Linked DNA regions of Homo sapiens. The protein of the gene in region 1 interacts with the protein of each later gene in a pairwise test. Each region holds a gene or a part of one and is shown on either strand. Other genes may lie near its edges.

Region 1 (4,016 bases):
AAATTCATAGCTGGGGGTGGGGAGTAGATGGGGGCTGGGGGAAAAACTTTCTCACATTCACGGAGCAGCTTCCCTCAAAGCGGCACGGAATCGGGAACCCCACTCAGGACAGGGGAAAACGGCCAAGTTCCTAGAAATTTGTTTTCTTTGTGGGGAGCAATTCATGATGGGCGTTCTTGTCTGGTTTCCCCCCACTCCGTCCCCTGACGCCGAGTAACACTTAAACCTTTCTAGTTGCAAAGTCTTTTCAGAGTTGTTTTTTTTTTTAAGAAATAAGTTTTGAAAATTCTAGTGCTTAAAATATATATATATATATATATATATAATTTATAGCCTTTTATTTTCTCTGAGTACATGTTGGCCACTACATTCCAAATTTATCTCAAATGGTTTTCCAGCTTGTTGAGGGGTGATGAAAAATAAATGGAGAATATATTTACATGCCCTCCTATTCTTTTCTTTTAGAAGTCTCATAAATAGTAAATTTCCTATTTTAAAAGCCAGGACATTTTCAACCTCAAATATTTGGAATTTTTAAAGGCCATATTAAAATGGATTACTTCTGCTATCTATAATAAATATGAATTGTGAAAATAAATTGTTTGAGGGAAAATAACGTAGGTTTTAAAAAGTTCCATTTAGAAAGGGAAGAATGAGATGTAATAGAAAATAAACGATGTAGTGTAGTGACTTAGCATTTTATTTCGTCTATATAACTAGGCTTAATTTTAACACCTTAATTTTAACATTAAAGATGGCACGTCAGACACACAGATAAGAAATCAATGTTCTGAAATTAATATCCTACTTACATTAAACATCCCTATCAGGAAGACACAGAGAGTAGAAGCATTTTGCACTAGACTTAGGAATAATACTTCCAGCTCCAAGGAAGTGAAGAAGGGGGAACATGTTTGGCATCGGAGGCTGTGTTTTTGTTTGCTTGCTTGTTTTTCTTTTAATGCCAGAACAAAATACCCCACTCACGTTCATAGTACCCCAGGAAATGCGCAAATCGGGACAGCCATAGAAGCCACAACCGAAGGCAAGAAAAGATGACTTGACGCCCTGCGAAGGTTACGTTCAGGTGGTTTTTAGAGGAACGTAATCCAGCTGTTTCTTTCTAACCATTTTGCAGCGAACAGAAGTTCGTGTTTGCTCTCCAGCGGGATTCAGATGCACACGCCCAGTATGGGCCGCGCAAGGTGGAGTGAGCAGCTGCGGGTCGCTCCCCACTCCCACCTGGCTCTAGGAGGGCCCTGCGGAGTTGGCCAGGGAACTGGGCGTGGGCGATACTAAAAAAACTGGTGAGGTCCCCTCTCCGCCCAAAGGGGCAGCCAGCGATGTCAGCCTAGAGCCCTCTGCCACTGCCTGATACCTCAGCAGGGCCGACGAGGCCGACAGGTGCCCGCCCAGCACCGCGCCCTTGGTGGGAGCGCAGCCGTTGGCGCAGTCCTCCTCCTGATGCTGCTGCTATTGCTGCAAAATTGTCCGAGCAGCGGCGGCGGCGGACACTTGCAGCAAAGGGGCAGCGGTCTGGGGATGCAACAGGCTTGATGGTCGCTGGAGCAGGTGGCAGTAGCTCCACGCGGTCGGGGACAAATTCTGCGCAGCCCCTGTACCCGCTCCCCTGACCCCTTGCATAATACTCTCAATGCTGAAAGAGATGCATCCGCCTCCCGGTGGCGACGCCAGACCCTTGCCCTCCTCCCAAGGCTGAGGACCAAGTGAGGGCTGCAGCACGGGAAGGGTGCCGGGGTCGCCAGGGCCGCGCCTTCTGCTTTCTTCGGTGCCCCGGCATAGACGGGGGCCGAGAGCAGTAGGTAGCGAAGAGGATGCGGGTGCAGCAGAGCGTAAGGGCGTCTCCCGGGGGCGGTGTTGGGGTAGGCCCCCGGGACTGGCTGCGGCGGGGCAGGGGCCCCAAGCAGAGGGCCTGGGCGGGGGTTGTGCAGGGCGGCGTGTGCAGCAGGTAGAGGGAAGGGGTGGGGCAGGTGGGCTCCCGGGGTCAGTTGGTGGCGCTTGAAACGCTTCCTACGCCGGAGAAAGCTGCCATTGTCGAACATGTCTTGGGAGGCGGGGTCCAGGCTCCAGTAGTTGCCCTTGCCTGGGTGGCCCGGCTCGCGGGGGATCTTAACGAAGCAGTCGTTCAGCGAGAGGTTGTGGCGGATGCTGTTCTGCCAGGCGGGGAACTTGCGGCGGTAGTAGGGGAAGCGGCCACTAATGAAGGCGCAGATGCCGCTGAGCGTGAGGCGCTTGTGCGGGTTTTGCAGGATGGCCATGGTGATGAGCGCGATGTACGAGTAGGGGGGCTTTGCCGGCTGCCGGGCATCTTCAGAGGCCGCCGCAGACCTTGGCGGTGCCCTGAACTTGGTGCCAAACTCTGAGGGGTCGCTCGGGCCGCCGCCGCCCTCGATGTGCTCTCGGGGAAGCGCAACCCCGCCCCACCGGGCCACCTGCAGCCCCGGCTGGAGCGACTGCTCTAGGAACTGCTGGCTCGCCGCCTCCTCCTCGTCTTCCACCTCGTCTTCATCTTCCTCCTCTCCCAGGACATCGATTTTACCGTCTTCCCCATCGGAGTCCCGGAGGCTGCGCTGCGGTGTGGAGCGAAGGCGCTCAGCTCTTGGCAGGTTCATGGAGGAGCAGGTGCTTCAGTCGCAGGGGATGTGGCGGCCGATCACCTGGCCTGGGGCGGGCTGAGCTGGAAGCCTGGGATGAATGTTGCAAGAAGCAGGAACGCTAGTGGTTACCCTTTGGGATGTTTTCGTCTGCTTGTTTCTACTCCTTTGCAACAACGTCCGGCAAAGATGCCTTTGCCTTTTATAAAAGCTTCTTCAAGACCATGTGTGGTGGACTCCCCCCTTTATAACCCTTCTTCCCCTACCTCGGAGCGGTGCCACTTCCTCCTAACGTAGTCCAGGGATGATGGTCTTCTGGGCAAACACCCGTCCGGAGAAAAGCCCAGCCCCCTCCTCCTCGCACCCACCTGCCACCAAGGAAGATGCTCTACTCATCCGGTGCAGCCAGACAGTTGGCAAGCCTTTGCACGGGTTCTGTTAAGGCGCATTTAAACCCGCGCAAATAAAAGCGAGGTAGGAAAGTATGATACTCAACATTCTATGACCACCTCAACATGCAGCCTTCCCGCCTGGAGAAAAGAAATGGTGGGGCAGGAGGCTGAAATGTACACGGTTGTTTGTAAAGGAATGTGTAACCGTAAAAGTATGTTTTTGTGTTTCACAGCTGGTAATCACCCATTTTCATTGGTAGAGTCTGTCCTTACCCAGAATGGTGAGCTGAATTATATTTAAGGTTCTGACAATATTCCCAGGCTTCAGGGGGGTGTTGCTTTGCTCCTTCTACCTTCCTTCCCACCTCCTCAAGATGCTCTCCCTGACTCAAATTTTCAGAAAAGGCTCAAATGTCCCAGCACTAAATTGTGTAAGTTTACTCAGGGAAGGCAGGAGAGCTCACACGGAGTCCTCTGTCCCCTTGTAGCAATGGTTCTCCAATTTCTTTGAATATTTAACCACAGAAATACATTTTATATCACAATCTCACACATACAGACATAATACATAACTAAGATGGGTTTCACGAAACAATATACTTACACTATAGTGATCACTGATATTTCCTTTTAAAAAAAAATGGCCATAACCAACTAAATTGATTTCACACATACCAGTATGGGCCCAGTTTGAAAAATCCTGTTCTTACAAAGTGGCCCCACATACAAGAAATGCACCCACTCTATAAGGGCTTCTCTCTCTCCCTTTCCTCCTTCCTTTCTTCATCCTTTATAACCAATTCATTTTTAGAGACAGGGTCTATGTTGCGCAGGCTGGCTTTGAATTCCTGGGCTCAAGTGATCCTCCCGCCTCAGCCTCCTGAGTAGGTGGGACTACAGGCGTGCCACTATGCCTGGCTCTGGCTCTTCATTCTTTTTTTTTTTTTTTTTTTTTTTTTTTTTTTTGAGACGGAGTCGCTCTGTCGCCCAGGCTGGAGTGCAGTGGGGC
Region 2 (3,500 bases), on another chromosome or scaffold:
AGGGAGTGTCTTCCTAGGTTGCCAGAGAACAGAGCCTGCTAGCTCCCTTTTGGACCCCACCCTTGGGGCCCCCCACCCACTACCTGCCCAGCCGTGCTCACATTACTGCGGGGGCCTCGGTGCCGGCTGGAGGGCAGGCATTTCTCCTGAACTTCTAGGAGCTGCTGGGCTCTGTGGGAGGGAGTGACATCATGTGTGTAGAAAGAAGGAAAGCTCCTCATTTCTCCTCGAACCCCCCGCCCTGTCCCAGAGGATGGTGAGGGAATGCAGGTGGAGGGAGAGCACCCCCATCTGAGCCCTGGCTCCCAGGGGGACCCCATCCCCAGCTCCTGGCTCTGCGTCACCTCTGATAATTGGGCACGGTGCCCCGGTCCAGGTCCCGCAGAGTGAGGGGGTCAACCCGGGTGCAGAACCATTCCTGCCTCCGCTTGTATGCCGAGTCCACCAGTCGAAGGATCTCTTGGGCTTTCACGCAAAGGGCATGGGGATCTGCCCTCTCAGGCAAGGTGAGGTTGGCACGAATGTAGAAGGGCTCGGCACCTGGTCCCTTTGCCCAGGCTTCTAGGGCCTCGTGGAAGGACTGGCAGGCTGGGCATGGATGGGGCAGGGGGCAGCAAGGAGGACAAGAGGAGGATGGTGAGGTCCAGGATCGGCCTTGGTGGGGCCAAAGACATGGCCCTCTCGAGGCCTGAGTTCCCAGGACCCGACCTTCACCTTCTTAGAATGACTTAGGTCCAGAGGGGGCAGGGACTTGCCCAAGGCCAGTGCCTTCTAGAAACAGAGCCAGGACTCAAACCCAGGTCTCTGGACTCCTAATGTAGTGCTCCTTTCACTGTAAGCTGCTTACAGAGGGAGGCATAGAGAAAGGGCACAAGGACAGACAGAAGGAGGCATCAGCAGGCGGGGAGCCAGGAGAAGGGCAATTGGGGCAAGGCTGGTCCCTTCTCAGGTCCTTGGTCCCTCCCCACCCCATGCACCACGGGTTAGAGGACCCCTCTGGGGCCAACAGCTCCGACTCCCAAGCCAGACTTACCCTTCGAGTCCATCAGGGAGGGGAGTGTGGACCCCTGATTCCAGAGCAAGGTTCTCTGCTGGGCCTCGGCTTCCAGGCACGCCCCCTCCAGACCAGCAGCTTCCACCCTTTGCTGGGAGAAAACCCAGGCAGGGAGGGAAAGAAGTGAGCCTCTGAGAGTAGAGCAGCCCAGGGGCTGGAGGAAGACCAGGTGTGGGGGTGTTTCATGCCTCACAGTTCAGATAGCGCCCCCTCAGAAACTGCCATGCCCAGCCCAGTCAGACCCGTCCCCATCCACAGGACGCCCCCATCCACAGGACTCCCCAACCCGCCCAGCTCATCCAGGTCTTTCTCGACTTGAAGCGCAGGAATGTAACGTGCTGTCAGTTGGCTCCACCTCCCAGTCCCTGCCCAATCAGACTTCAATTAAGCCTGGCTGAGCAGGCAACCACAGCTAATCACTGAGCCCGCTTCGGCTTTGACCAATCCCCAGAAGCTCTGCCCGGTGATCTTGATCCACCAAATTAAGGGATGTCCAGCCTGGGCAAAAGCACTGACCCTACCCCCCCAGCTCAGGAGGCAGGGCCTCACCTCTCTTGGTTCCATCCTGGCGGACCCAGGCCCAGACAGCACCCTGCGCACCACAGCCCCAGACCATCTGTCCCCATAAAACGACAGTCCATCTGGTCCCTTGTCCTGCGGCTCTGGGCCCCCTGGGGGGCTCCGGCCAGACACCCGAATAGCCAGAGACCTGAGAAGGGAGAAAGGAGATGAGAATTGGAGTCCAATCAGTACTTGGATTCAGTTCAGCATTCTTGGAAAACCACAGTGATTTCATTTCCCAAGTATGCCATGACTCCCACCCCCAGGCCTCTCCATCTTCTGTGCCCTCTTCCTTGCCTTCTCCACCTGGGAAATGCTGATCATCCTTCAAATCTCAAGTCACAAGCAGCCTCTCCCCTGGACCTGGGCACACGGTGCAGTGGAGCCTGCGTGCCACAGAGCACTCCAACTTTGCCTTGCCACGGCCCTTTCGTTTCCTCCATCAGAACGAACACCTTCAGGACCAAACTTCTATACTGTTCCGCTCTGTAGCCCTGGCACCAAACCCAGTGTCTGGCACATAGCAGATGACTAATAAAAGCTTGTTATATAGCCAAGCACGGTGGCTCACGCCTGTAATCCCAGCACTTTGGGAGGCCGAGGCAGGCGGATCATGAGGTCAGGAGTTCGAGACCAGCCTGGCCAACATAGTGAAACCCCATCTCTACTAAAAATACAAAAAAATTAGCCGGGCGTGGTGGTGGGCGCCTGTAATTCCAGCTACTTGGGAGGAGAATTGCTTGAACCCAGGAGGCAGAGGTTGCAGTGAGCCGAGATCGAGCCACTGCACTCCAGCCTGGGCAACAAGACTGAAACTCTGTCTCAAAAAAAAAAAAAAAAGCTTGTTATGCTCACAGTCTGAGGAGGGAGGTCACCATTAGCACGTGGCACAGATCCAAAGGTGGTTACAACCAGCCGTGGAAGCAGAGAGAGGCTTCCCACGGAAGAAGTACCTAGGCTACACGCTGGTGAAGAATAGATGCACTTTGGTGACAGATGGAGGAAACAGAGTTCCAGGCTGAAGGAATATATCAGAGCAAAGGTGTGGAGGACAGAACACAGGATGCGTGGAAGAATTTAATAATAACAATAGCAGCGAACACTTCCTGGGTGCTTTCCATGTGCCAGACACCATGCTGAGCTCCTTGCCCTAATTCTTATTTTACATCCTGGGAAGCAGCTCCCAGGAAAGGCAAGCTGGAGCCACCCTTTGGAGGGCGTGGAACAGAGGCGTCTGGTTTTCCTCCCATGGGCAGGAGGACCACTGACAATTAAGACGTCACCAAAATCCCCATCATGGTAGGGTTCTGCCTGTCCCTGGATGAGAAAAGGTGAGGCCTTGTGGCCAGGCTCAGAGACAAATGGACCCCAAGTCCCCTGCCAGACACCTTGGCCTGGAGGAGGTGGGGAGACCAAGGTCAGCAGGTGTGCTGGCTGGAGAGGCAGCGGGGCGAAGCATCTCCATCCACCCCAGCAGCTGCAGCCCAGACACAGCTGCACTGCCCCCTGCTGCCAGCCTGGGGAGGGCGCGGCTGCAAGGACCTCCCACCCAATCGGCACTGCTGGGGAACAGCCCCGCCCTCTCAGGTAAGACACAGAGCCAGGCCGAGGGGCTGGACAGATGCAGGCATGGGAGGCATCATTCAGTGCCGCATGTCCTGGCTGCATCGAGGTGGCATGGAAAGGGGGCAGGCCTGAGACCTGGCCTGGCTATGCTGGCCCTGGCTTTGTGGCTGGAGCACACGGTCCGCTCCAAACCCCAGGGCAAACTGCACCCTAGCCTGGGCAAATGAGCCGGCTGCTGAGCGTCAGTTACCACATGCATAACACGAAGCTGACAATGACACCCCTTGCCCTCTGTGGGTGCTGGGGGGTGGGGGGGGGG

What was found. Proteins that work in one complex are often made in the same cells at the same time.
Region 2: the proteins of FOXD4L3 (region 1) and CARD10 interact in binary tests that used the Homo sapiens proteins (3 or more experiments, as listed by UniProt).

The regions. Positions count from the first base shown.
Region 1 is NC_000009.12:68,301,569-68,305,584, reverse strand, and holds FOXD4L3 (forkhead box protein D4-like 3), read right to left. Parts: upstream 2,719-4,016; 5' UTR 2,634-2,718; coding exon 1,380-2,633; 3' UTR 501-1,379; downstream 1-500.
Region 2 is NC_000022.11:37,495,416-37,498,915, forward strand, and holds part of CARD10 (caspase recruitment domain-containing protein 10), read right to left. Parts: intron 1,764-3,500; coding exon 1,604-1,763; intron 1,146-1,603; coding exon 1,034-1,145; intron 589-1,033; coding exon 345-588; intron 172-344; coding exon 102-171; intron 1-101. UniProt on the Homo sapiens protein: Scaffold protein that plays an important role in mediating the activation of NF-kappa-B via BCL10 or EGFR.